Regions from separate parts of the Homo sapiens genome. Here region 2 is linked to region 1. Evidence: fine-mapped expression QTL. A gene starts in region 1. The other region holds a variant in brackets. All regions are shown on one strand. Distances are between the middles of the regions.

Region 1 (13,444 bases):
TCAGTCCTTGTTCTCCTCCCTCTTGTCATGACCACCAAACTGCCATCACTGTCACCACCTCCAGCATCTCCTCTGTCACCACCCCCATTACAACCACTACCACACAGATTTTTGAGATTCTGACTGAAAATTGTGTTTACCAGGTAAAAGATAGGGGCTTGTAGGCGCCCCTCTGGCAAGAGAGAACAACTCGTCTCTTGGTGGTGGGTAACATTTTAACCCCTGGGTTACCAGCAAAGCCTTGTGGTCCAGCTCCCACTTCTAGCCTGTTTGGTCCTGTGATCCATTCATGTTACCTTATAGCAGGAGGGACAAGGAAGGCAGGGAGAGAAAAGTTCTGGCAGTGCAGGGAAAGTCGCTGTTTTCAGAAGCAAGAAGGTCTGAAATCCTACTAGGAGAAGCCCTGGTGATCCAGAGCTGACTCCAGGTGTCCTGAGGTCCATTTCACATGGATTTGCTAGACCTTGCAACTGGCTAATTTCTCCCTCTGTGACAGTCTGCAGCCTAGCCTCCAGAGCTTTTCTCTGGCCTCCCCAGACAGGCTGAGATTGTGCTATTTGGGTAAACAACATTCCCCGCGGTTGTCAGAGACAGACTTATTTACCTGGTAGCAGCAGTTCCTTCCTACCCACCTCGTCAGATGCATCAGGACTCAGGGTGGGAACCAGCACTCATCACATTCAAGGGTGGAAGACCCAGCATCGGAGGGGTGGGCAACAGACCTCACACATACTACGGGATCCAGGGCTGTGTATTGCAAAGTCACATTCACTGTTTAGCTCGGAGGCCTCTCTGGACTTTCTACGTCTGGGAATAAGCTAGGCTAAAGCTATCATGCCCCAGAGCTGTGATTTCATCCAGTTATCCTATACCCTGCAGCCAAGCTAAAATATAGTCACTATATCTCCCTCGGCCATGAGCAGATACTTTATACTTTAAAACCCTGCATGCTTTGAATTCCCCTGACTGCTTAGCCAAGGTGTCATATTGGCTCCCACTATCTCAGGCAGTGAGGAAAGGTGGTCACTCAATCCCTGCCTCCACAGGGCAATACAGTCAGGGGATGGTGCTCAGCTTAGGAATTCTGCAGTTGTCTTTCTGCAGGCAGCTCTACCCTACTGCAGTTACTGACCAAGCCATCCCATCCTGCAGCTGCTGGGAGCTGAGTTGGGGCAGGGTACAGCTGTGCCAGCTGTCGGAGATAGATTACACTATGAAGCTCGGCTGTGACTCACATTCCAGCACAGGGGAAATGCGCAAAAGTTCTATGCTGTCTTTGGGGTGCTAAAAATCATCCTGGCTTTGTCTTGCAAGATGTTCGGCTTGCGGAGCATGGGGCAGATGGAGGACCCTTCCATCTGGGTCCTCCATGGGGAGGAGGCAGGGGGCAGATCTGTCTCCAGCCAACTGCCTGTCACACAACTGCCACAGCTACTAATAACAACACTCAGCATTTAATCAGCCCCTTTGTGGATGCAGACGCTGTCACACTCATTAATTAGTTAATCTGCACAGCCCCGCAGGAGGAAGAGTCATGTTATTATCCCCACTGGGACTCAGAAGGAAACTGAGGCCAGAGTGGGAACTTGGCACAGAGCGGAGGGAGCACAGCCTGACAGCTGGACTGGGACCAGTCTACGACTTGTCTGTTCTGGTGCCCTCGCTCTTGTCCTCCTCCCCAGCTCCTGTCTGCTCACAGTGCTGGTGACTATCTCCAAAGACACCTGGCCAAATGCTGTCAGAACTGGGCCTGAAGGTGCTCAGAGAGAAGGCCAGGCATGGCTTTGGCGTGGAGAGGATGCACCTCTGGTAGCTGGACCAGGTCAGGTCTGTGGGGAGTGTGTGCTCTGGAACAGCCACCCTTTCTGATATGTTTCTTCCAAAGCGTCTTGGAACTAGAAATAGAAGTGATGAGGGTGCCCCTCTCTCTCATCAAAATGCCTGTTTCCTGTGCAGGCGGCTCTGGGTTTTGATTGTGTGTCTGGTGGTTTTAGAATGGAAGGGAGGAGCAAATCCATCAGGAGGCACCATTGTGGTTCCACTGGAAACTGGGACTGGCCATCTGGGGATCTTTGACACACGCAGACACACACACACACACCATGGGTAGAACCCACACCCCCGTGAAGGACCTCTTACATCATTGTACCCAGTGGTCGATGTTGCTGGAAGCCTGCTGAGATGCCTTACAGCCATGGCTCAGCCCTCAAGAAGAAGGCTTAGGTCAGTCTGTCAGGCAAAGAATCCTGACTGAATAAGAATCGGGCAGGAGACCTGCAGAACACAGAAATAAGGCGTTAGAGGATGGAATTCGCTAGTACCTTCTAGGAGTTTGTGACCAATTGCAAAAATAAAGACTGCAGTCCCTCCCTGTCTTTCCTTGCTTGTTACTAGAGTTGTTGAAGATTAAATAGTTGACCATTTCCCCCTTTAAGAAAATATGAATCACAATTTGAAAATGTTTTTGTTATCTTTCCTTTTCCTTTCACCTAACATTTATGTGTGTATGTATTTTTTTGAGAGGGAGTCTTGCTCTGTCGCTGGAGTGTAGTGGCGTGATCTCGGCTCACTGCAACCTCCGCATTCCAGGTTCAAGCGCTTCTCCTGCCTCAGCCTCCTGAGTAGCTTGGATTATAGGCGCGCGCCACCATACCCAGCTAATTTTTATATTTTTAGTAGAGACGGGGTTTCACCATGTTGGTCAGGCTGGCCTTGAACTCCTGACCTTGTGATCTGCTTGCCTCGGCCTCCCAAAGTGCTGGGATTACAGGCGTGAGCCACCACGCTGGGCCTATTTTTTTTTTTTTTTTTTTGAGACGGAGTCTCACTCTGTTGCCCAGGCTGGAGTGCAGTAGCGGGATCTCGGCTCACTGCAACCTCCACCTCCCGGGTTCAAGCAACTCTCCTGCCTCAGCCTCCCGAATAGCTGGGATTACAGGTGCCCATCACCATGCCCAGCTGATTTTTGTATTTTTAGTAGAGATGGGGTTTCACCATGTTGGTCAGGCTGGTCTTGAACTCCTGACCTCAGGTGATCCACCCGCCTCAGCCTCCCAAAGTGCTGGGATTACAGGTGTGAGCCACCGCACCCGGTCACCTAACATTTATAATAGTGGTGTTTCTCAGCCTTTCATGTGCATTCAAATCACCTGGGAATCTTGTTGCCAACCTGAGATTCTTGGGCCTGAGATTATGCATTCCCGTTAAGCTTCTGGGTGGTGCCAATGTCTCACTCTGAGTAGCAAGAGTTCAAAGGATTTGGTGATGGTAAAAGTAACCCTTTAATTCAGTTAAATGACCAGATGGGATCAATCACCTTGAAGATCTTGAAATAATAGTAGCCTCATGACATCAAGTGTGAAGGTGACTGTTGGTACTTGTCTGGTGAAGACAACTTTGGAGGAATGGGAAGAAGGACTGGCGTGTGTCGGGACACATGTGTGCACATGGACACATGTGAGTTTGTGTACATGGGACAGCTAAGGGATGGATCCGTAGTAGACAGCCTTTTTTTTTTTTTTTTTTTGAGATGGAGTCTGGCTCTCTTGCCCAGGCTAGAGTGCAATGGCACGATCTCGGCTCACTGCAACCTCTGCCTCCCACGTTCAAGTGATTCTTCCGCCTCAGCCTCCCGAGTAGCTGGGATTACAGGCACCTGCCATCATGCCAGGCTAATTTTTGTACTTTGGTAGAGATAGGGTTTCACCATGTTGGCCAGACTGGTCTCGAACTCCTGACCTCAGGTGATCCACCTGCCTCTGCCTCCCAAAGTGCTGGGATTACAGGCATGAGCCACCGCCCCTGGCCGACAGTCTTTGGACTGGCTGTTCAGGTCATGATTCTCCTCCTCTGGGAGTGTCTCTCAACGGGGAAAAGTGGACTGACATGTTTGTATCACAAAGCACTTTCTGCCCTGGCCATAGCTGATTGACCGTGGCCTGATCTGGACTAATAAGATTCTTTTTTTCTGGGAATCGGGAACTTTGAACCAAGAGACATCCAATCTGGCAGTTTTGATTCTGATTAATGGCAATGATCTAGAAAGAAGATCCCTAAACTGATACTGCTACAGTTGTCCCTTAAAGCCTCCCCTGATCTCTGCCCTTCCTGAGCCTTGAGGAATTCAACTCCTCCTTGAATCCCCTGAGGTGCCCCACTGGGTATATGCGCCCACTCCTCATTTTCCTTGTTACCTACGTGAGTTTGCTTTCTAAATAATCACAGGTAACACAGAACTCCTTCCAGAAGTGGCTCCATCTGCTTCAATAAAAGGCAGTCCTGGCCTCACAGTCTCATTTCCAACCCAAATGTCCACGTAATTTTCAGACCGAGGCTTCTGCTCAAGCCGGGCACCCCACTACCCACACCTCCTTGTTCACCTATGGCTCCCACTTCTACTGAACTGCGCGATCACTGTGATTTTGGGGGTGGCAACAGGGCCTAGGAAACATTTTAGAGGCACTTCTCTTGCCTGAAAGAAAACGTTCTTCCCCTTTTTGTCTCTGATGAATCTTTACTGGATCTTTGGGACCCAGCTGAGTCATCCCGACCTGCAGACTGGACTCCCATCCCCAGGCTTAAATTCCTTTCCAAGGGCTCTGTCTGTCCTCTCGGCTTAGCTTCTGTGTTAAAACCCCCTCCATCTGCGTCTCCTCCCCAGCAGAATGAGCTCCTTGAAGTCAGGGCCCGCCTTCTGCTCCTCTCTGTGCTCCACTCCCCCAGTTCAGCACAGTGCTCCCAGGGAGGTGTAAGCGACTTACGGTGAATGAAAGGGCGTGAAGGGGAACAGGAGGGGCGGTTTTCTTCATTTACCAGAAATTCAAAATTGACCAAGTAAACCCCTTTGGAGACCAGGCACGATGCTGGGCACTGGGAACGGGGGTAGGGGTGGGGGGTGGGGGGGTGGTAGGGAGGAGGGGGTACCCAGGGTACCCACGGGCTCTGTCGCCCGTGGGGAAGGATGGGCATTTACCCTTCCCATTCATCAGGATGGGAGGGCCACGGACTCCCCCCACGGCAGTGCCGGGTAGACCCCTGCACCACACCGTGCCAAGGCCCTTTCTCACAGTCACGCCAGGAACTCTAGCCATGCTCTGACTTCTCAAGCAGAGTTCAGTCACCCCGAGGAGGTGGGACCCGTCTCTCTCCTCCCCACAAATGAACCAGTTCTCCAGTGATCCTACTTCCTTTTTTCCCTCTCCCACGCTAAAACTGGTCACGAGGGACCTAAAGGAGGGGCAGGCACCCAGGCGGCTCCCTTCCCCGCACGCATCGCGGCCAGTCCAGCCCCTCCCGGCCGCCCACGGGACCCCAGCCGAGCCTGAGCCAGGCGCCCACCGCCCCCACGCGCAGGGCCGGCGCCCGCGGAAGACTCGGCTCTCCCTGGCCTCGACGCCGCTCCCCTCCCTGGCGCCAGGGGGCGCTGCCTCCCCACGACCGTCGCCATGGTCACCGCTGGCGGCGGAGAGGGGTTTACGTAAAGGACGCAGCGTCCCCCGGGGGGCGGAGGCGGCCTTCGCGCCGGCGCCGGCGCCCTGCGGAAGCGGCGTTAGTGAATCGGGGCCTTGGGGAGCCCAGGATGGAGGTGGCGGTCGCGGCGGCGGGCCGAGCCCTGCGGCGGGCGGGAGGTAAGGGGGGCCTCCGGCGCGGCGGGCCGGTCCTGGGCGCGGGCGCGGTGCGAGCGGCGCGGCGGGCTGGGCAGTGTCCAGGGCGCGCGGTGGCCGGCCCGACGGGTCGGCGGGCGGAGTTGCAGCTGCCACGCGCGCCCGTGGCAGGTGTGAGGTCTGTGGAGCCCCTGGCACCAGCGTGGGGATGGTGACACGCGTGGCACGGGCGTGGGCAACGTGGGTCCGGCACAGGCGGCGTGGTTTTCCTGGAACGGGTCTCAGAAGACTCGCCTCCACCTTGGTGCGGTGGTGGCCACGCAGGTGTGAGGTGGTGCAGCTGTCTGCACAGGTAGGTGATGGGCACGGCCTTCGGACTGGTTATGGGATAGGTGGCCAGCTCGTGCCGGCATGGTGGTGCCGCTAGCATGGGTGTGAGGAAGTGCTGCCATTGCTTGGGTGTTGGGATGGTTCTGGCCTTGGGCTTGACATGATCTGGGGTGATAGCACTGGGGGCTTGAAGAATTGGTGTTCTCAGCATGGCTAGAGTTCCTGGCATGACTGTGAGAAAGGGCCTTGGCACGGTGTGGTGCGGGGGGCTACCCGGCACTGCCGCGGGGGGAGTCCGTGGCCCTCCCATCCTGATGAATGGGAAGGGTAAATGCCCATCCTTCCTCACGGGCGATGAAGGGGACACTGCCTCTGTCATGGGGGTCCAGTTTTAATGCCTGTTGGGTACACTGGACTGAGGAGGGCAGAAGGCTGGGAGAAGGTTGGTGTCCTTTATAATGGGCATAAACAAGAGATGCCAGGAGAAGCTTCTACCACAAGGGCCCTGATGGTAACCCAGATAGAGACCTTCCAGGCACTACCGTTGTCCTGGGCTAAGGTAGAGAGAACCATTCATCTAGCTTTTCATCTAGCTTTGGGAATGAAGGGAGGGGTGGATGATTTTCAGTGGTGATCGGTGTCCCAGAATATGTCCTGAGAAGCAAGCAGGACCAAGAGGTAACCCGGGTCAGCGAGTGAGGGAGTGGTATGGCGCACCATCTATCTGTAGTCACGGGGTCCTGCCTTCTCCCTGGGTTGATGGGTTCACTCCAGGGTATCTGGGAGTTGCCTCTCTTCTTTGATGCTGGGGAGCCTTTGGGTCCAGAGGATTGGATCGATTGGGGTATGCTTGAAAGATGATTCTGCAGCCACTGGGAATCTGCTGGGGCCACCGGGACTCCCACCCCCAGGCTTAAATTCCTTTCCAAGGGCTCTGTCTGTCCTCTCTGCTTAGCTCCTATGTTAAAACCCCTCCATCTGCGCTGAGATTGTGTTTGCTCTCACCAGTCCTTTGGGAAGCTTTGGGTGAAGGTCTCACTCAGCATCACCTAGTGCCTTACTTTACAGAGAAGCAATTTGCAGCTCCTCCTAGAGAAGTCTTACAGTGTAGGGGAAATCTTCAGTTCTTTGTGGATCTCTTGGGGGAGTGGGATCAGTGGTAGAAGAATCACAGGGTTGAGCTTGTGCTGGGGAAGGCACTTATGAGTCCAAAAAGATGATGTTGAGGGTAGGGTGGCAGGTGGTCGCCAAATTGCCAAGGTGGGTGCTTGGAGATGCTGATGAGTTCCCTATAACCGGAGCACTGTCCGATGCCTTTGGAGCCATATCACTTTAATTCCAGTGTTGGCTGTGTGACCTTCAGCAGGTGACTTCACCAATCAAGGCATGTCACATGGTGGTCTGGTAGTAAAGAATGAAAGGAAATGGTGCACGTGGAAACACTTTGCAAACAGCGAAAGACTGTACAAAGGTCAGAGAGTCTCATCAAGTAAAGAGACCAGGGCTGGAGGCAGGAGCCATAGGAAATGGTGGCACGGGATGTGATTGGGAGGAAGGGAGCCGGAAGGTTGAGGGCCTGTCATAGGGAATTAGAGGCCCTGAGCGCACATGCTCCCGGTGGGGGCAAGTGGGATCTGTTGACACTGTGAGTCAGCTGCTGAGCTGGAACCAGGCCCCCGGTCTCCAGAGGACAGTCCTGAGCATGGCCCCGGCAGCTGTGAAGTCCTGCAGGAGTGGCCCAAGCAGGAGGAAGCACTTTGCTTGGGCAGCAGACGTGCCTCATTGCCAGGGTAGGTCTGGGAGGTGTCTGTGGCTGACAGATCTAGGGTACCTGTGTGGGAGGAAGACTTGGGAAGTGTGTGTGTTTTCTCTGGAGAATTTCCTTTGGCTCTGGGTTCTGAGAACGGGGGTGGGGAGCAGTCACATCAGCGTCTTTTGGGCTGTGGCCTGAAGGAAATGAAGTGGGTCAGAGCATCCACAGATCGATGTGGCTCAGGTCTGGATGGTTCTGCGGGAGGTTGAGGCTGGATGGCAGGGGGACGGGGGGGGGAGGTGTGGAGGATGCCCTCAGACACATAGGGGAAAGGAAAGGGGGCTACAGGCACCTCTGAGGGCAGACAGGTGTGGCACCTCTCCCAATGTGGCCCCACTTCTGGCTGAAGTGCCTTCCCAGGTGGGGAGGATGAGGGTGGCTGCACAGTGCTTTGCTCTCTGCCACCAGGAGCCTAATTCCCGACAACAAGCTGCAGAGCCTGAGTTGCAGACCCTGCCCCATGGCGCTGGAAGTCCTGTTTTTCTCTCACCCAGGCCGTTTCTTCAGCATTCCATGCGGGTGTCTGCCTTAGCCAGCAACCTGTTTCACATCCTTGCTCCCCGAGGAAAGTTTTTGCCCTGTGCCCAGGCTGCAGTGTCAAGCCATGTGGGTGGAAGGAGGACACGGCCCTCCCAGACCCAGGGTTGTGAGCTGACTTTTCCATGCTATGGACTCGCCCTGTCCCCGTAGCTGCCACGCAGACACTGTCCAGCATTGCAGGTGCTTCCCTGGTCATTCCCATGTTGGTCTGAGGGGTATCCATGGCCTGTCTCACCCGCTCCCTGCAGTGCTTCATACCTCCCCCGAGGAGTTGCTGGGCACTTCAGCTCATGTCTGGAAAGCTCTCTTAAGTGCAGAGTCCATTAAGGAGGAAGCCTACAGCCTCCCTGTTGTGAATATTCAGTATTCAAGTCTCCTCAGCTCACCCTCCACACCTCCTCCTGTTTGTTCTGATTTGTGGCTCAGCCTTATGGTTTGGGGCTCCAGGAGCCCTTTTCAGCCACCCTTTGCCTTCTGCTTGGGATGCTGGGACTGCCCACCAGAGCTGAGTGGCAGGCAGGGCAGATCTGAAGACACTGAGAGGAGGAGTTGGCCTCTGTTCCCCAAAAGGAGAGCTGAGCTTTCTTCCCAGTCCTGGGGTTTTGGGGTAGCAGGGAGCCCAGCCAGGTTAGCACCCTTGTCATTGTGCACAGATGCTGATTTCGAGTAAGTTCCAGCTGAGGCAGGGGGCCAGTCACTTAGGAGTGGACCTCGAGGGCAAGCAGCTCCCTGGAGCTACAATATTTCAACTCTGGTCCCCAGTCATATTCCCATTTTCCTTGTCCATGTTTCTCTAAAAGTTGCTTTCCTCAGCTCCTGGCAATTCCTCAGCTGCCCCATAAATCACAGTGCCTGGCTGCTGTGCTTTAGGGGTGCCGGGGAGCCAGGCATCTGTGGCCAGAGGATGCTGGACCAGAGCTGACAGCAGCGGGCCAGAAGGCTGCAGCTGAAGGCACAGCTTGTCACTGGAAGCCACTCCTCCCCCAGTCCCTCTCCTCGAGACCAGAGGGGAACCTCAGTGTTTAATCACCTGTTGGCCCATCACTCTGTGATTTCAATTTCTCACCGGAATAGCTTTACATTACACTCCAGTGGACTGGGCAAGTAGCGCTGGGGGAAATATCAATGAGCATGTGGTCAGAGGAAGATAAATCTTTTAGAACCGCGGAGCCCAGGACATTGCAGGATGCGGTTACCTCCCCAGCGGATAGGGCTGAAAATGGTTTATTTTGATTTTCTTTTTTTGTTTCTGATACTGACTTGGGCTGGGCGTGGTCTTTCTGGGTTGGATGGGAAGCGTGAGTGTGGGTGTGGACGTGGGTTGTGTGTGTGGGCAGGAAAGACCCAGGAAACTGCCTTATCTGTGAGGACCTCTTTGCTGCTGAGGAAGGAGTCCAGGGAGATGCCGTGGAGGGGATTGGTGTGACCACGGGTAAGGGTGTTTTCATGGGGTGTTTGGCAGGAACGCCTAAGTCCTCTAGATGGGGATGGGGCTGTTATTACCGCGGGGCTGCCCGGGGAGTGCACGTGTGTAAAGTTGCTTGTGCCCATAAGTGTTTCTGTGGGAAGTGAGGGCGGAGGGGGTGTGGAGCGCCTGGTGGTGTGGGAGCGCGCAGGCTCCCGTGTCTGGCTGGCCTGGTGTTGGTGGGTGTGCGGAGCTGGGGGTTGCCGGGCTCTTCACAGCAGGAGGGAACAGTGGGAGTCGGAGGAGGCTGCCTTCAGGCTGTGGGAGGGCAGAGGGTGGGTTTCATACCTCATGTTATGACTCTTTACATGAGGAGCCGAGTGCTTTCTCAGTATTCCTTAGAAGGAAGCTGGGCTGCAGGCGGGGCTCTCACACACCCTTCTGTGTGCTACCTGGGGGCGTCTCACACGCCTGCTTCCATGCTCCTCCTTGAACCACCTGGAAGTCAGCTGGGGACAGTCCCCTCCCCCCCATGACAGAAGATAGCATTGTAGCCCATGGGTAGTTATGACTTCAGACTCTGGAACCTCACGGACCCAGATTGGATGCTGGCACACCTCAGTTTCCTAATCTGTAAGATGGGGACAGTAAAACCTCCGAGAGCCGAATGGCAAGAATTCTCCCAGGTAATGCCTGGTGCGTAGAGAGATCCTGATGAAAACACGCACTGAAAAAATGTTTTTGCTCTTGCGGCCGGAATCCTTTCCATAGAGAAGTGGTTATGTCGTGATCTGCATATATTAGCAGTAGGGAAGATGTAATGGGTCTCATTACTTGATAAGAAGTTAGCTCCCCACATCCTTGGGATAGACAGAATCTTGCATATCTGTTAGCAGTGTCATCAGCAAGAGTATATCTTAGCCTTGAGGAATGTTTCCACTTGGACATAGTCGATAGTTATTTCTTGAGCGCCTGCTGTGAGTTGGGGGTTAGTGAGGGCATGCAGATGAGGTGGTCATACCAGAGCCTATAAGGTGTAGATTCTGACCTCAAGTTGCTTAAAATCTGTTGAGAAGATATAGTTAATTTCTAGAAATGAGTGATGCCAGAGGTCAAAGGAGGGAGAGTGACTCGAGCCAGGGAGGTTGGGGAGACTCGGGTGGCCACGGCCTTTTTATGTGGGCCATGGGTACCGGTGGGAGTGAACAAAGGAAGGTGCTTGTAGAGGAACTGGCAGCAACGGGGGCGGGTTGGCGGGGTGACTGGTGGCTGGGAGGGGAAACTGCTGCCCGTCTGTTGTGTGCTGTAGGGCGCATACAACAGAAGTGGTGAAAGCTAAGATTGGAAAAATGAGCTGGAGCTGGGTCCCCAGGAGCCATGATGGCAGGGCTGAAGGTTTGGTTTCCAATCTGTGAACGCATGGGCATTCACTGAAGTGTTCTGAGCAAGGGTTTGGAGGCTGGTGCCACCCACCAGGAAGAGTGGTATGGCAGCAGGGTACTGAGGGACAAGAGTAGGGGGTGCCCAGGTACAGAGGGCTTGAACCAGGGCAGTGGCCACTCTGCAGGGGAAAGGGGAGAGACAAAGCCTGGTTGATTATGGAAGGGAGACAGAAATCATGAGATTGGTCAGTGTGGTCACTAGGAGGGGAAGGGGTGGGAAGTGGGGCCAGGAAGCTGAGCTGGGCCTCGGAATCGCTGCCTAGAATGTGTTGCCCACACTTGACTTTCAGCGGGTCTGACTCCCGTCAGTGCTGGGCGGGAGTGTGAACGGCAGGCTTTCAGGGCTGCCCTCGAGGCCGTTCCCATCCCTGAGGACCCACTGAGGGGGTTCCAGTGTTCACAGCACTTATTTCCAGGCATTTGATCATTTTCTCACCAAATTACCCCTTGAAATTTCGCCTGCCTGAGTTCAGCCCAGGAGGTTACTATTCTGGGAAGTTTCATCAAAACCTTTTCAGTGTTTGGGAGTTCTCTGAGCCTGGAGGAGGATGGAGGAGAACAGGGCTTGCCCTCACCTGTGTTTGGGGGCTGCTCCTGCAAACCAGTCCTACACCTGGAGACGGTCCTGGCCAGGGAGCCTGCGGCTCTGGGGTGGAGGTCGGGACGGTGGCCCTCCGCTGTGTAAGGTGAGACAGGATGCTGCCTCGAATTCATCCTGAATGGGCCCCTCGTCATTGTCTCTCCTGGAGCCATTTAATTAATTGATGATTGATGTTCCTGGACTTCCTTGAGGTTAATCTATTATTGATGTCCCTTCGTTTATATAACATATGCTGCACCTCCCAGCCCCTGGCTGCTCCTGATGGGCAGGCCACACCGTGGAGTGGGCTCCCTGGGGCTGCACCTCTGTCTCCTGGGGACAGGGCCCTGCACTTAGCTTTCTCAAAGCCTTTCAGGTTTGGGGTCAGGGAGGGCACCAGGGCGTGTCTTTAGGAGGCTTTGCTCAGCCACAAAATAATACTAGTAACAATAACTTCCATTTTCTGAATGTGGATGAACTGAACCCAGGAGAGTGTATAGAGGATGTCATTTACTCCTTGCAACAGCAACCCCCTGCACGCTCCCATCCCTCCAACCTCCATCTTACGGGCGGCTTAGGGAGCTTGCATCACCTGCTCAGGGACACTCAGAGAGGCAGGGAGCCAGGGTTTGAACCCAGGATGGGTTCTTTTTGGTGTCCCTGTCCATACGCCACCTCTCCCTCAGGTCCCACACAATCCCACCTCCTCCATGAGGCCATTCTCCATGCTCCACTGACTCTAGCACTCTTTTTTTTTTTTGAGACGGAGTCTCGCTCTGTCACTCAGGCTGGAGTGCAGTGGTGTGATCTCAGCTCACTGCAACCTCCGCCTCCTGGTTCAAGTGATTCTCATGCCTCAGCCTCCCTAGTAGCTAGGATTACAGGCACGTGCCACCACGTCCGGCTGATTTTTGTTTTAGTACAGATGGGGTTTCACCATGTTGGCCAGGCTGGTCTTGAACTCCTGACCTCAGGTGATCCACCCGCCTCGCTCGGCCTCCCAAAGTGTTGGGCTTACAGGCATGAGCCACCGCGCCTGGCCAAACAAAGGCATCTTGTAGCACTCTCTTATCTGAATAGCGCTGGCGCCCCTCAGAGAGAGCATGTGTGTTCCCCTCACTGATCTGTGTCCTCACTGAAGCATAACAATCATGGCGAAATAACATTTAGGGAGCACAGGTGCCAGGCACCAAGCTCAGTACTTTTTGTATCTTCTCTCATTTAATCCTCATGACCATAACAAGGAGCATGGGACTGCTGGGCCTGGAGTGTTCCTGGCTCTGCTGGGCAGCTGTGAACAAGTCACTTTTCTTTTGTTAGCCTCAGTTGCCCTGTCTGTATAATAGCAGCAATGATATTTGTCCTGTCTCCCTCACTGTTCAAAGGTGACACTGGATGGGAAAGGCCTTTGGGAAAGACATTGTACTAACAAAGGATTAGGGATGGCTGGGTGCGGTGGCTCACACCTGTAATCCCAGCACTTTGGGAGACCGAGGCGGGCGGGTCACGAGGTCAGGAGATCGAGACCATCCTGGCTAACATGGTGAAACCCCGTCTCACTAAAAATATAAAAAATTAGCCGGGCATGGTGGTGGGTGCCTGTAGTCCCAGCTACTTGGGAGGCTGAGGCAGGAGAATGGCGTGAATCCGGGAGGCGGAGCTTGCAGTGAGCCGAGGTCGTGCCACTGCACTCCAGCCTGGGTGACAGAGCAAAACTCTGTCTCAAAAAAA
Region 2 (15,723 bases), 33 kb after region 1:
CCCTGGTTGACAGGGATGAAGCCCTGCCAAACTCCCGCCCCCTCCCTGCCGTGTCCTCGTGAAGTGGGAGTGAAGTGCCACTGGGGCCAGAGGGGCTGTGCCGAGCATGTGGCCCCAGCTCCACCTCCCACCACACCCTGAGCAGGTCGGGAAGCAGAGGCCGCAGAAGTGACAGCGTGACAAGGCTGGGCGAGTCTCTTGGGAAGGAAAGTGATGCCAAATTCTGGGGTCAGAGGTCGAGCAGATGGGCACTTACCTACCCAGAACAGAGTGGGTCAGTGGCCTTGCTCAGGCATGGGCAGGCAGAGGCTGGCACTTGTCAGGGGCCTGATGGGGTTCCCCTCATCGTGGAGGCCTGTTCTCCCCTCTCCTTTCCAGTCTCTATGTTGCCCAGAGCCTCCTGGCCTATTCCCCCACAGGCTGGGAGAGAGGCAGATGGAGGCCAGGGTCTTCTTGGGAACTACAGTGTAATGGAGGAGGTGAGGCAGACACACCAGAAGCATGCAGGAAAGTGGGTCACGGGCTTACCTGGTCATTTGTGGGCTGGTTTGCCAGGGCTGGGGCTGAAGGCCAGCTGGGACAGGCACTGAGCAGGCCTCGCAGGCTGTGGAGGCCATGTCGGGGCGGAGTGCCCAAAGCAAGCGGGGCCATCTGGAGAGGAGGAAATGCCTGGGCATGGGGTGCACTCAGTGGCTGAGCAGGTGGAAAGACAGGAGCTGGGAGTGGGCGTGCCCGGCCGGCAGGGACAGAGTCAGACAAGGTGGAGGGTATGGGTGCTGGTGGCAGGGCTGGGCAGGGCGGGGTAGGGGTGTGGTTGGTGGAGAGCTTTATAGCTAATGGTTGGGAGTTTTAATTTTATTTAAAGGGCATTTAGGAGTCATAATAGGCTCTTGAGAAGGGAATTTATTTATGTATTTATTTATTTATTTATTTATTTTATTGTTTTGAGACTGAGTCTTGCTCTATTGCCCAGGCTGGAGTGCAGTGACGCAGTCTCGGCTCATTGCAACCTCTGCCTCCCTGGTTCAAGCGATTCTCCTGCTTTAGCCTCCCAAGTAGCTAGGACTACAGGTGCCCCCCACCATGCCTGGCTAATTTTTGTATTTTTAGTAGAGATGGAGTTTCGCCATGTTGGCCAGGCTGGTCTCGATCTCCTGGCCTCAAGTCATCCGCCCGCTTAGGCCTCCCAAAGTGTTGGGATTACAGGCGTGAGCCACCGCGCCCGACTTGGGGGTTGATTTAATTAAAGCTCTATGTCACCAATCTCCTCCTCTGAGCCAGAGCCTGCTTTCAACACTTTACAACTTTTTTTTTTTTTTGAGATGGAGTCTCACTCTGTCGCCCAGGCTTGAGTGCAGTGGCGTGATTTCGGCGCACTGCAAGCTCTGCCTGCTGGGTTCACACCATTCTCCTGCCTCAGCCTCTCGAGTAGCTGGGACTACAGGCTCCCGCCATCATGCCCAGCTAATTTTTTTTGTATTTTTTAGTAGAGATGGGGTTTCACCGTGTTAGCCAGGATGGTCTCGATCTCCTGACGTCGTGATCCACCCGCCTCGGCCTCCCAAAGTGCTGGGACTACAGGCGTGAGCCACCACGCCCAGCCTCACACTTTACAACTTTTAACTCGCTTTGTCCTCCCAGCCACCCCAAGAGGGAGGCACTGTCATCATCCTCATCCTATTTTATAGACGAGGAGAGGGCTGCGTTGTATATTGAAGGTCACAACTCTGTGGCCGTTTGAGTAAATCAAGGCACTGGGACCAAAGCCGGGTCCAGTCCTGTCCTCCACCCGGCAGCAGGGGCCTTCTGAGCCCCTGCCCCTTCCTGGAGGCCTTGTGCTTGGGTCCAGCTTTGCCCTGCCTGGGGTGATGGGAGGGGATAGGGAGGTCTGAAGGACAGAATAGTCAGCTGTAGGCCCAGGTCTCTAAGCTTCTGGGTCAGTGACTTTTTTCTGTGGCCCCTTTTGCCCTCCTGGCTCAGGCGAGGGGAGGAAATGCTGTGATCATTGTGTGAGCTCAGGCACCTGTATGTAGCCCCCAGGCTCTCTCCTTGGCCATTCTGCAAGTAAAACTCTAAAAGTCCAGACTAGAATGGACCTGAGAGCATATCCTGCTTAGTGGCTTTCAAACTTTGTTTGTTTGTTTGTTTGTTTGTTTTTTGAGACAGAGTCTAGTTCTGTCACCTAGAGCTATTTTGGGAGGCCAAGGCTGGCTGGAGTGCAATGTCGCAATCTTCGCTCACTGCAACCTCCACCTCCCGGTTCAAGCAATTATCCTGCCATAGCCTCCCAAGTAGCTGGGATTACAGGCATGCACCACCACGCCCCGCTAATTTTTTGTAGAGACGGGGTTTCACCATGTTGGCTAGGCTGGTCTCGAACTCCTGACCTCAGGTGATCCAGAGCAGCTGAAAGCTGCTGTGGTTGACATTGCCTGCAAGCCCACTGAAGCCTGCCCACTATGGCCACCTCCCCTCATCTGGGGTCCCTGAGGGCTTCTGGAAACCCACTGAAGAGCACTGAGATCCCCCTCATTGAGCACAGAAGGAGAGGAGGGTGACAGAGGGAGGGGACGGGGCTGCAGCCTGTGTGCCATTGGTGGTGGCAGGTGCCACCTCCCTCTCCAGTCTCTGTGGGGGCAGGGGATGTTGGCCCTTCCTGTCACATACTAGAGCTCTGCAGAACCTCTTCCCCTGGGGAAAGAGCTCCTGTTACGAAGTCACTTGATCCCTGCTTGCTTCCGAGATGCCCGGGGTACAGTCGAAGGGAAACCCAATAGCCCAGTTGGCCAGCCTGTGCCCTAGATGGCCATGCAGCTTAGGGAGGTGGCCCACGAAGCCTCCCCACCTTTGAGCAGCAGGCACCCACACCAGCCAGACCCCGAGGGCCAACCCACAGCCTGAGGAGAGGAGGCAGCAGGACCAGGGCTCAGGGTAGGCTGGGCAAGGGGGCGGGGGCCCCAAGAGGGGAGGCATCAGGCTAGGTGTGCCCACTTAGCATATCATTAACAGCTTCATTAGGGGGCCCCTAATGAAGTGGAAGGTACTAATTCTTCACTGAGGCGTTGCCAGCACCCAGACGGAGTCTCCTCTCAAGGAAGTTCTGAGAAGCCAGAGCGCTGGGATTCGTGCTGGGAGCTGATGAACTGCCTGGCAGGGGGGCCATCTGGGGAGTGAGGTCCCAGCAAGTGGCTCCTAGGAGAGGGGGTGACTCTGGGGGGAGGAGCAGAGGGTGGGGCCAGTGGAAAGCTGGAAGGGCAGATGGGCTTAAAGGGAGGGGGGACCGCTACCTCTCAGGGCATCCTGCGTTTGAGCTGGGAAGGGGCCTGCAATGAGACACCCTGAAACTCAAACATGCAAGCTGATAGATGCGGGGCATCCTGGCAGGATCTCAGGCTTTGGAGTGTTCTAGAGTCTTGTGGCCTTGGGCGAGAACTCTGTGGCTCAAGCTGTCCCAGGGGTGTTGGGTCCCCTCTCCCTGGGTGGTTGTGGATTAAAGGAGGCAGTGCCAGTGCGGCCGTGCTGGGCTCCTAGGAGTTGGAGCTCTCCCTTTCCAAGAAGGCAAGTCAGAGGATTATGCAGGCTGGAAGGGTGAGGGCAGGTGTGGGTCAGCCTGCTCACCTGTCTGTTTGGGAAGATTGACTTAGATCGCGGAGAGTTATTGCCCCTGCCATGCAAGGTGAGGTAAAGGTTCTGCGCACACTGGGGAGACATGGTTACTAAATCACAATGATGGCAGCTCCTGTTTTCTAAGAGCTGAGCACTTTATGTGCGTTATTTCGTTAACTCCTCATGACTCACTCACTATGAAGTGAGTACCTTCATTATTCCATCTTACAGATGAGGAGACTGACGCTCAGTGAAGTGACAGTCATAGACAACTAGAAGTGATGGAACTAAGATTCAAATTCGGGCTGCCCTGCTCTGGGGCCAGAAGGCAGGCCTCGGTCAGCTCATTGGATGGCCACCCCCTCCAAGTCGATGCCTTTGAGAGAGTCGCGTTCCCGGGAGAGTGGGGTAAAGACGTGTTAGGGCATGAGGGGACTGACCAAGAAGACCACCGGGGCAGGTAGAAAGGACGAAAACCACAGACACCCTTCCCCACAGACAGGCAGGAGAAAACAGCCTGGTGCCACCCAGTGTGGGGCGGTGTCGGCCTTTGCGTGAGGGCTTGGAGATCCAGGCTGCCCGGCCGCACCCATCACAGAGGCCAGCAGAACCCGCCTGTCTGGGCCTCTCCAGAGGGGATGTGGACGTGTGGGACAAGGGCTTGTTCTGAGTTTCAGAAAAATGAATAATCTCCAAGGAAGAATCCAGAAGCCAGACCTGGTCTGGCCAGAGCCTGGGGGACTCCTTCCACTGTTGGAAAACATTGTCGGAGCACAGGACTGAGTGGGCTCTGATGTGAATCCCCCTGGGAAGAGAGGTCAGAGGAAGGCTGGGGGCAGGAGGAGGGCCCAGCCTGGTCGCCAGGGAAGGGTGCTGCTGCCCTCCTGGCCCTCACTTCCCGCTCCCCAGCAGCCAGCCATCTTTCCAAAATAACCAGCAGGAAACGAAAGGCCTCAATTGATTCCCAGGGAGTTGGCTGGTGTCAGTAGCAGGGCTGGTGGCAGATGGCAAATTCTGCTCATTGTGGATGAGTAGAAAATAATTAGCGTGAGAACGAGTAGCTGGAGCCTTGGTAATAAATGGAGCCCTGGTGAAGCCTTCTGGGGAGAGGCCTGGAGCACAGGCCCTGCAACCTCAGGCCTGGCTCTGCCGCTGAAGAGCTGAGTGGCCTTGGGCAACTTATTTAGCCTCTCTGGGCCTCCATTTCTTCATCCATAATACAGGGCATAAGAGGTTGTTAAAAGGATTACATTAAAGGAGGTAATTTTTGTGAACTGCTTGTTAAAGTAACCAGCATGTAGTAAATGCTATATAAGAGTTTGTTTTTAAATAAACACGATCGAGTAATTGTTGGAACTATTTCTGGGTCCGGCCCAGGCTGGCATTGCCCCCAAGTCACTGGAGCTTCTCTTTCCGTCCTCCTCCCTGAACTCTGTGCCCAGCTCCCTGACTGCTGTTTTATAGGGGAGGGGTCTCTGGCCAAGAAGCACGAGGAGGGCACAGAGAGAACACAGCAGGTAGACCTGGCTTCAGAGCCTGACTTGGACACTCACTTGCTAGCTTCTTTAAATTCTTGGAGCCTCAGTTTCCCGATCCATGACATGCGAACAGCTAGACCCACCCCTGGGGTTGTAGTGAGGATGGTTATGTGGCTGGCACATGGTGAGGGGTGGAGGAGGTGCCTCCTCTGGTCCTTCCAGGCCATCCTGGGGGAGAGTGGGAAAGGCGTTTGTTAGCCTAAGACCCTGGGCGGCGGGTAGGAGGGGACAAATGTCAGTGGCCTCCCACTCCTGCCCCTGGCTGCACAAGGCACACTGTTTTCATCCCTAGGCCTGGGCGTGTGAGGACCTATCTCATGCTGAAATCTGGCCCCAGTCCTGGGCAGGCTCCGCTCTGCCTTCTGCTCTAGCGCAGCTGATGTGTGAAAAGCGACAGCTTTCAGGCCCCTAACTTGGGTTGCACACACCCAGGTACAGGCTGGTGGCGCACGTGGCCCCCAGCCCACACGTGCTTTCTCTCCGTCGTCTCCCTTGTCACCTCTCCCCTCCTGTGCTTTCAGAGGCCAGCCTCTCGGCCACTGGGAAGAAGGGGAAGGTACTGTAGCCCCGGGAGCCTGGGGTGGGACCTGTGGGTCCTACTGTCTCTGTGTTTGTGACAATAAGGAGTCAGACTGACAGGCAGAGAGGGTATTTTTTTCTTGCAAGTAGTTCAAGGAAGCTACTTGAAATCCCAGCTCTGCGATGTCCTCGTGGAGGGATCTTCGTGCAAACCATTTTGCCTCTCTGAGCCTTGGTTTCTTCATCTGTAAAGTTGGGGTAATACCCTGTGGCCTGATGAGGCTGGAGGTGGATGACACATAGTGTTTCTAGTGCCTTGCTCTCTCCCGACTCCACAGCCTGCTCCGTGGAATTCCCCTGGGCTCAGTTTTCCTCATCTGCAGAATGGGTCCCGTGCTATCCCACATGATTGTGAGTCTGAAGCTAGATGAAGACCCAGAGAGCTCCTCAGTCTGTAAGAAGAGGCTTAGAGCCAGCTTTTGAGTTCAGAAACAGGCATTTAGCTGAATCCTGCTTCTCAGAAACAGCATGCAGAGGTAAAGACCTGGGTTCTGGGCCTAGGCTGTGTGGCTGTGGGCAAGTCACTTCAGCTCATCTGTCAAATAAGGGGAAGGGTAGTACCTACCTCACAGAACTGTTATGAGGACTAGGTGAGTTCATGTTTGTAAAGGGCATAGATGTGCGCCGAGACCTTGTAGGCAATTCATAAATGTTAGGAGAACCGAAGCAGCCCAGTCCCCAACTTATAGGTGGCTGAGATCATTCTGTCCCTGTCACTACCCAGGATCCTGGAGCCTGCAGTTTCACCAGTGCAGAGAGGTTAACTCGCTACCACAGTCCTGCAGCCACAGTGAACAGCTGGAATCTCACCACGACCAAAGCCTGTGCTAAAGAGAGCAGGACCTGTCTGCCAGCCCAGCGAGGCCAGACAGCGACCTGCTGGTGAGCCCACCCTAGCTGGGGTGGAGCCTCTGAACACAACGCCTCTGCTGGGGGGCGGGCCACCAGTGTCCTGCGGGGCACCACTGGGGGGCCCAGCCTCACTGTGCTGAGTCCCGCAGATCAGATGCCCACCCCCAGACCAGATAAGCTCCAGTGCCCAACAAGGCACATTCAAAATCGGATGGACCACGAGAGCATAGCAGGCAGTAGGCATCAGTTCCTCTCCACTATTTTGGACCACCTTCCAATTTCAAAGCCCTTTCACATAGGAATCCCATTCGTCATGGAAATGGGAGTCCTGGGCTCTCCCTTCAGGACACCAAGGGTCAAAAAACCCTGCAGAGCGAAAAAGAGCCCTTACAAACTTGCCAGTTTCCACATTTACTTTGGCAACCAGGAAGTGTGGCGTCCAGTGCTAGTTTTACATATAGCAACCGTGGGGGCCCTTATGTCTCACATGTGTGCAATGGACTCATCCTCCC[G/C]GCCCTCAATTTTGATTTACTGGGGCCTAGAGGGGTTGGGACTTTCTGTCCTGGGGACACTGCTCTTCATTCAGCACCAGGCAGCTCTAGGATGTGGCTGGACCTGGTCCCCATCACCAGCCCCCAGAGGCAGGAGTAAAATGGGGGCCCAGGGAAGGTGGCTCTCTGGATCTGTCTGAGAGTCTCCTCTCTGTCACCACAGCTGCTGCAGAGCAACAGGGACTCCACCGCTGGAGGCAGGAGAGCCAGCCGCAGGTGACTGAAGTAGGCACATGGTTGATGCCTCCCTGCAGGTTTATCTCCTGTGAGGGAGCTTCTGTGGATGTTGCTGGCTTCTAGGAGGGTTAGGCATCTTCAAGATCGTGAAAGAGAGGATCTCAGCCCAGGCTCCCTGTGGTGACACGCTACTAATGCTGTTGTCACTGGGGAGTTTGAGTGGGGTATGTAGTGAGGTAGAAGGGAGCAGGCTGGCTTGGGGGCTTGGGTTGTGTGTCCAGCACCTGGCAGTGACGCTGCTGGGATGGATATCACGGGAAGAGCTAGGGCCTCTGTGTTCTTTCTGAACCTCAGTTTCCTCGCCCATGAAAGGGGACAGTGGGACTGTTCTGAGACTCCTTTTAACTCTGACCTTTGTTAGGTGTGGGCTTTGGATGGCAGCAGGAATGACCTGCGCCTCCTGCCTGCCTGGCCTCTTGATCCTCGGATGGTGTCAGGCAGTCTCTGCATCTCAGTCTCATTCTTCAGTAGTAATAGTAATGGCAGTGGCAGCATTTGCTGAGCAGTTACCAGATGACAGGCGCTGTTTGAAGTGTTGACTGATTTAACCCTCCTGATAATTCGGAGGTAGGTACTCTTCTTATCCCTGGTTTAGAAGTGAGGAGACTGAAGCACAGAGAGGTTAAGTACCTTGTCCAAGGTCACACAGCCAGTAAGTGGCAGAGCCAAGACTCAGATGCAGCCTGTTTTAGAGTGCAGGGTCTTAACCACCCCTTGCACACACTGTGGAATGAGAGCGACACTGCGACCCTGTGTTACTGCTGTGAGGACTGAAGCCGGTTAGTCCAGGACTTGGGACACAGAAGGTGCTCAGCTAATGTCAGATGGATCCCTATGGCTGGACCTGGCTGTCATCCCCTCCTTCAGGCACAACCTCTATCCCATCCCCAGGCCAATGACCAAAGCCATCTCTGGCCAGATGGGAAATCTCATGGGCTGGAGGTGGCACTCGTGGGGGTTCCCAAGCTCATTGTCCAGTTCCCTGTGGACACTCCAGAGGGCTGAGCCAGTACCTTCTTCCCCCCCATCCCCCTGGGAGCTCTTGGAGCCCCATCTGCTGGGAGTCTTGCTGCCAAGGGACTCTGCTCCTTAAAATCTGCTCCCAGGGCCAAGCCCACAGGGTACCTTAGGACGAGGGGGCGAGGCCCAGCCTGGGGTGCTTTTACCAGCAGCACCGGAGCACTCATGGTGGGGGCAGGCTCCTCGGTCAGGGCTTCTGTTTGCTCACTCCAGCCCTTTCTGACCAGCTGGGCACCAGCAGCACCTTCCAGACCCCAGCACCCAGTCACAGGTCACATCACAGGAGGTCCCCACAAAGCCCCTCAGGTGTCTGCTAATGCAACAGCAGCCATCAGCAGATCCTTGGGGTGTGCAGGACCTGTGCAGAGTCCTGTAGTGACATCACCCCAGTCTGTTCTGACCACAGCCTTGAGAGGGATGTTGTTAGCCCCATTTTACAAGAGAAGAAACTGAGGTCCCAGAACAGTTCATCTAGCCAGAGGGGGGGGAGAGGGTTCTCCCTGAGCTGTCAGGGAAGACACTGGGGTGGGAACCCAGCCTGACAGTCAGGAAGGGAGGGACGTTTCCCCAGAAGGGAAGGGTGTGAGCTCAGAGGGGGAAGGAGCCACTGTCTCAGCCCTTGTGACTGGGAGGGGAGCTGTGCTGAGGAGGCCATGGGGTGGGACTGAGGTGCTGGAGCCAGGCACTGCAGCTGGCACCCAGAGGTGTGGCGATGGGTACTGTGAGACCCTGGCCCCGGGGACTGTTGAGCTGGGGTGGGGATGGGCAGCAAGGAGTCAGCAGGTTAACCGTAACACAGTGTGACCAGGGCCATGCTGGGGGAAGGGGTCTAGGGTTCCCATAAGGGAGCAGCCTGTTTCCCAGGAGGAGAGTGGGTTGCATGAGGGCTGTCAGGGAGGGCTTCAAAGAGGAGGTGACTTTTAGCTGACCTAGAGAGATGAGTTGGATTTCACCCATCAGAACTGGAGTAAGCAAAGCATGGACCCTTCCAGTGATGTGTTTCTGGGGAGCAGCATGTTTGGGGTGTCGAGAAAGAAGGATGTGGCAGTGTAAGAAGGTGCTGGAGAGCCTCTCCAGCCAGAGGATTTGTCAGCTGAGGGTGGGCTCTGTGCTGGAGTCTGTCTGCACCAGGATCGCTTTCTGCTCAGGTGATAAGGGAATGCGTGGATTCAGAGAGGGCGAGGCATATGCCTGAGGTTGCACCGCCTGTCGCTGCCGCCCGAGGGGCTTGGACTTTGTCCTGCAGGCCATGGGGAGCCAGGAAGGTTTTTAAAGTAGGGGGCAGCATATGCATTTTTAAAAAGAGTTTGCATTTTTAGAAAGAGGAACTCCCAGAATGGTTAGTACTTAGTCCAGGGGCCTGAATCACCAGCAGGAAAATTGGGCTGTGTGGGTGGGGGAAGAAGGAGGCTTCCTTGGGCTGCTTAAGTCATTCCATCCATGTGAGAGGGGTCCTGGCACCCCATTCACACTTGCCTGTGCTGGGGGTCCAACCAGAGGCAGGAGGAGCCCCCAGCAGTGCCCCTGTGGCCCCTGCTGGAAGGTATGCCGTGCCTGCCCTGGAAGCCCCACTGGTGTGGGATAGGAAGGGCAGGCAGCGCCTACCCCCGCCCCACTGTGGCTGTTAGAGGGGAGGACCCTATGCCCCAGGGGAGGAGAGCCAGAAGAGGTGCTTTGTGGCAGCCCCAGACCAGGAAGTAGCCTCTGCCCTCCCCGCTCCTGAGACATTTCCTCCAGATGAAATCACATCCCCAGCAGGGGAACAGGCCCTTATTGTGATGGGCCGGGGTCTCTAGAGAAAGGGCACCATTCAAGGCCCTTAAAAATAGCCCCAAGAGATGTATGAATTGGCCTGGAGAGTGGTGCAGCCCACCCCCAACCCTTATGCAGCACAGGCCCTGCCACCCCCACCCCAGACCTTGACTTGTTGGTGACCAGCCGGAGATTCCACCAGCCCAGGCGGGAGGGGTGGCTGGTCCAGCAAGGGGTTCCTTGCACTCCCTCCGCCTCGCCCGCCCCAGCTAAGACAGCTAGAGCCTCTGCAGACCTCTCATGTGATTCTCACCAGGACTTTAGGAGGTAGGGATAATCGACATTTTACAAATCGACATTTTACAGTTGAGGAAACTGAGGCACGACTAATAAGTCACACAGTGGGTACGTGGTAGAGCCCAGGTTCAAAACCAGCCAGCCTGGCACTTGTGTCCCAGCCTCTGTGCCTCGGATTCTATGGTGGTGGGCCGGCCACTGGTGCAGGCCTGTCACTGGGTACCCAGCAGGGTCGGCCCCCAGGAGCCCCGCCTCATACTCTAGGTAGGTACTGCTGTTGACCATGGCAATTGGCCTCAGGCTGGTCACCCTGAGGTGGGGGCAGTGGTTACCACTGGTCATATCCCTCCAGCGTCTTGACAGTCCTTCAGCCACCTCACCTCTGCAGGGCCCAGGGCCAGGTTCGGCTCACTCCTTCCAGCCTGAGAGCTGAAGCGAGCGGGCATTGTTCGGGCAGAGGAGGGGAGTGCAGAGTGAGTGTGTGTGTTGGGTGGATGGTGTGTGATCTCGAGGAGTGTTAGCTATCCTGGGTTCCATGGGTCCAAGGGTGGGAGTGAGAGGAGGGACCTCCCAGGGTGACTGAGAGGGGCCATCCATGGGGTGGACCTGAGAAGGAGATATTCTTGGCTGCTGGCAGAGGCAGGCCTGGGGGCAGGCTGGGTAGGGCCAGACCCTAGCCCTCCAGCCAGCCCCTCTGGGACAGCACTGCTCCCTCCTCCCCTGGTCTGGCCAGATCAGAGCAGGATGCGGCTCTACAGCACCTGCGGGGGCGTACTGCCCCCCCAGCCTCTAGATTCATTCCATTTCATTCTGTTCCATTCATGTGAGGGGCTCCTGGCAGCCCCGACAGCCCCCTGAGCCCGACCCAGCGCTGCACCTTACCCTCTGTGAGCTACTTGGAGACAGGGAGGGGGCGGCAATACCAGCTGTTGGCAGCTCTGTTCTGCCCCAGCCCAACTGCCACCCACGGTGCCCCAGCCCCCCCTCCTGTCCTATCGTGTCCAACCCTAATCTGAAGCTGGTGCTGTCAGCCACATGTCACAGGCACTGCTGACGCCCCGGACCCCTGCAGTCCACAGACCACCCCCCACCCCCAAAGCCCAGCCACCCCACCACCATGCTCCCTCACTCTCCACCCTTCTCCCTGCCTCCCAGAAGCTGAGCTCCGACTCCTCCTTGGAGAGAGAGTGGGATGATGTCACTTCCTGAGGGTGGGGGGAGGAGTAGGCACGACCCCGGCAGGCTAGCCCGCCAGCCCGCCAGGCCACAGCTCGCCAAGTGGCTGCACCGGGGATAGGGAGGCGGGCCGGGCGGACATGCGGGCTGGCCACCTGGCCCCACGCCCTCTCGCCCACCCTGGGGGCTATGCCCACTGGCCAAGGGAGACTTGGCTGCTTCCTCCCCGAATGATGCCGGGCTCCTCGGACACACATTTTCCCTGGAGCCGCCACTGGGGAGAGGAGGATCTGCCGCCTGCCCCGGACCAGGTGCCATGTAAGCCTCTACTGGCCCCCGGCGGGGGACAGCTGCCCACCAACTTGGTCCCCAGCCCCCTGCAGCAGTTTAGTGCAGAGCTACCCTGGAGCCCTTTATGGGTATCTCTGGGGACCTAGCTCCCTGTGGGGTCACCTCCCACCCATGCTGCTTCCTTTCTCTTTGGGATGCTAAGGAGTGAGGGCCCTGAGTTCCTGGGCACTCTTTCCTGAGCTTGCTTGGGGCTGATTTGAATTCAGCTACTTCAGAGAGTTGAAAATCCAGCTGGAAAAGCTGCATGGCTCAGGGTGGGCTTGGGAGGTATGGTTGCCAGGAGGGGTGTGACCCTGCAGGGCTTACCCCATCCTTCCAGCAGTGTGGGGTGGAAGGTGTCCCAAGCCCTACTCCTGACCCTGCACCTCAACCGTGCTCTTCCCTCCCTGGAGGCATAGCTGTGGTGGGGACTTCTGTCTGATGGGTTCAAAACCAAGTCATAGAGCACGCTCTTGGCTTCCAGCAAAGCAGGAAACTGAAGCCTTCATTCAAGAAATACTTACTGAGCACCTGCTCTATGCCAGGCACTCCTCACCTTCCATGTTTGTCAGTCCCAGCTGCCAACCATACAGGGTCCCTTGCCCCCACCTTCCCAAGGCCTTCAGCCTTCCTCCTGCCCTGCTGGGCTTTGTGCTGTTGGGTGGGCTTGTTCTTGGTCTGGGAAGCCCCTCCCTTGACTCCAAGGACAGTGTGCACTGGGCCAGGTCTAAAGATTATAGGGTTTGAGGGCTGGGCTGAGGGTCCCACTGATCCCATGAAGGAGGAAACGGGGTCTTTAATAGAGCTCAACAGTGACTGCTGGGGTAACCCCAGGTAGAAGCCGATCCCTAGTGGCCAGTACCAGTCTCGGGGGACAGGAGAGACTCCAGGGGGAAGGCTGAAGTCTGTGTCCTGCTGCTAAGGTCCTTTGTGTTGGCTCCTGCCCGGAGGTGGGTCAGCACTTCCAGTGGCCAGCTCCAAAAATGCCTGTGCTTCTGGCCACACCGGGGACTGGTCCCGTGGCCCAAGGAATGCAGTGGCCCTGGGTGCCTTCACCTCCTCAGGCAGCTATAAGGTCCTCTGCTTTCTTTCAGGAGGTGAGCACCAGGCCCACTGAGCCTCTGCAGAGCCACCAGCCATGCCCGGGATCGTGGTGTTCCGGCGGCGCTGGTCTGTGGGCAGTGATGACCTCGTCCTACCGGCCATCTTCCTCTTTCTCCTGCATACCACCTGGTGAGTCCCCAGGCCCGGGGCCACAGGCCTGGGTTTGGAGAGAAAGGTCTGGAAGGACGCTTTCTGGCCATTTGTTCCTCCCTGCTTGGGCCCAAGTCCCAACCCTGTCATGCCCCCAGCTGCCCGGAGGAGGTGCCTGAAACATCTAGCCCCTTAGGGCAATGACACCCCTGCTACCATTGCTGGACCTGACCCCAACACTGGGGGGAGTTGCTGCTACTGTCTCCCCATGGCTGACCCTGAGTCTTTTACTGGCCGCCCATGCCCTTCTAGGCATTCGATGCCAGGTGGACAATGGTCTTATGGAGGAGGTGCCTGCTGCCAGCCCTCCTTCCACTGAATCTGGGCTGGGGAAGGGCCTGCCTGCTAGTAGCATCTCGAGGTACAGGGGCCACCTGGCCTTGCTCACACGGGCGTTCCTGTGACAGGTTTGTGATCCTGTCCGTGGTGCTCTTCGGCCTGGTCTATAACCCGCACGAGGCCTGCTCCCTGAACCTGGTGGACCACGGCCGCGGCTACCTGGGCATCCTGCTGAGCTGCATGATCGCTGAGATGGCCATCATCTGGCTGAGCATGCGCGGGGGCATCCTCTACACGGAGCCCCGTGACTCCATGCAGTACGTGCTCTACGTGCGCCTGGGTAAGGGCCACCCACCCTGGGGTGCTGCCCCAGACAACTCCCACCTCTCCATTCACTCAGCCAGTATTTACTGCGCACATGTTGCGAGCCAGGCCCTGTTTTAGCACTGGGGTACAGCAGTGAACTAAGGCCTTCTGTAGCTTACATTCTAGACTAGGGGCCAGCAAACTGCAGCCTGAGGGCCAAATCCAGCCTGCTGTATGTGTTATTAAATAAGGTTTTAGGCTGGGTGTGGTGGCTCATGCCTGTAATCCCAGCACTTTGGGAGGCCGAGGCAGGTGGATCACAAGGTCAGGAGTTCGAGACCAGCCTGGCGAACATGGGGAAACCCCGTCTCTACTAAAAATACAAAAATTAGCCAGGTGTGGTGGCACACGCCTGTAATCCCAGCTACTTGGGAGGCTGACGCAGGAGAATCACTTGAACCCAGGAGGCAGAGGTTGCAGTGAGCCGAGATTGCGCCACTGCACTCCAGCCTGGGTGACAGAGCAAGTCTCCATCTCAAAAAAAAAGAAAATAAGGTTTTATTGGCACATATCCATTCAGTAAGGTATTGTCTCCAGCTGCTTTGCCCCTACAGCAGCCGAGTTGAGTAGTTACTACAGCGACTGTAGGACTCCCAGAGTCCAAGATATTTGCTCTCTGGCCCTTTACAGGAAAAGGTGCTGACCCCATCCTCAACCATGTGCATCTCTTCAAAGCATATCTTCCTTGTGATCCTTCTCAAAACAGGCCTTCTGCTTCCTGGGAACCCCCTCAGGAGTCTGGGCCAGCTCCCCAGAGGACCAGCCTGTGTCCTCTTCTTGGGCTTAGGTTGCAGCCCCTTCTGGTCATTTGTAGTGAACACTGCTCTTGTGCTTCTGTGCACTGGGCTAGGCCCTTTTTCCTGTGTTAACTCACAGGGAGTGGGTGTTATTGGTCTCCGTTTATAGATGAGGAAACTGGGGCCCAGGCCTAGCTCTCACACAACTAGTAAGCGTGTAAATGTCGGAGCTGGGATTTGAACCCACGCTGTCTGGCTCCAAAGTCTGGTCTCTGAGCTGCCACACTGCTGCCCGTGCAGCTGGGGCTTTCCAGGCTGCCCCCATGAGGCCAGCAGATCTCCTTCTCAGCCACCACTCCATACCCCTCCCCTCCAGTCTCAGCCCCTGAGGGGCCTGAGCTGGATGCAGACCAGCTGCTGGGCCCTTCCTCTCTCCTCCATCAGGTTCCAGAGGCCTCTTGCTGGGAAATAGTTTCCATGAAGTGAACACGCTCTCATCTAATTTTTGCACAGTCCTATGACATAAATGTTGTCACTCCCATTTTACAGATGAGGAAATGGAGGCTCAGAGAGATTAGGAAACTTGCCTAAGATGTGTCTGATTCCACAGTTCAGACATGATTCTGAGATCCTGATAGAATGAGGAAATGGGCCAGGCGCGGTGGCTCATGCCTGTAATCCCAGCACTTTGGGAGGCCGAGGCGGGTGGACCACTTGAGGTCAGGAGTTCAAGACCAGCCTGGCCAACATGACGAAACCCCGTCTCTACTAAAAATACAAAAATTAGCTGGGCCTGGTGGTGGGTGCGTGTAATCCCATCTACCCTAGGGACTGAAGCAGGAGAATCTCTTGAACCCAGGAGGCAGAGGTTGCAGTGAGTCAAGATCACACCATTGCACTCCAGCCTGGACAACAAGAGCAAAACTCCATCAGGGATGCCCCGGGGACTTGAGAGCACAGAAGCTAGGAGAGGTGGTGGGCACATTGCAAGCGGTCATTCAGGGGCCAACAGGACCAAATGGTGACAGGACGGGCTTGGGGCCTGGGAGGCGGGGGGTGGGGGGTCTGCTAATGGCCCGCTGCCTCTGCCTTTGCTACTGAGCTGGCTGAAAGCCCAGCGATAGGAAAGGCCAGGCCGGGGTTCTAGGC

Alleles and levels. Positions count from the first base shown, and alleles are read on the strand shown. Sizes are in standard deviations (SD) of each study's normalised expression.
For the expression in testis of the gene that starts at base 5,514 in region 1, allele C in region 2 goes with a higher level than allele G (small effect, 0.39 SD a copy in GTEx).

What was found.
Region 2: its variant is fine-mapped to the expression of DAGLA in testis (GTEx, PIP above 0.99). The same link has a PIP of 0.9 or more in tibial nerve.

Annotation. Positions count from the first base shown.
Region 1 is chr11:61,674,878-61,688,321 of GRCh38, forward strand. DAGLA (diacylglycerol lipase alpha) reads left to right here and starts at 5,514. Exons shown (of 20, transcript NM_006133.3): 1 at 5,514-5,627. RefSeq lists enhancers at 7,711-8,385, 8,386-9,059.
Region 2 is chr11:61,707,080-61,722,802 of GRCh38, forward strand. It overlaps DAGLA (diacylglycerol lipase alpha), which reads left to right. Exons shown (of 20, transcript NM_006133.3): 2 at 13,033-13,171; 3 at 13,600-13,811. The coding sequence starts at 13,077. Among named protein-coding and RNA genes, the nearest start is that of DAGLA, 35 kb to the left of the region's middle. RefSeq lists enhancers at 7,935-8,721, 8,722-9,507, 10,294-11,079, 11,080-11,866, 11,867-12,652 and 1 more. The variant G/C (reference allele first, on the strand shown) is at 7,088.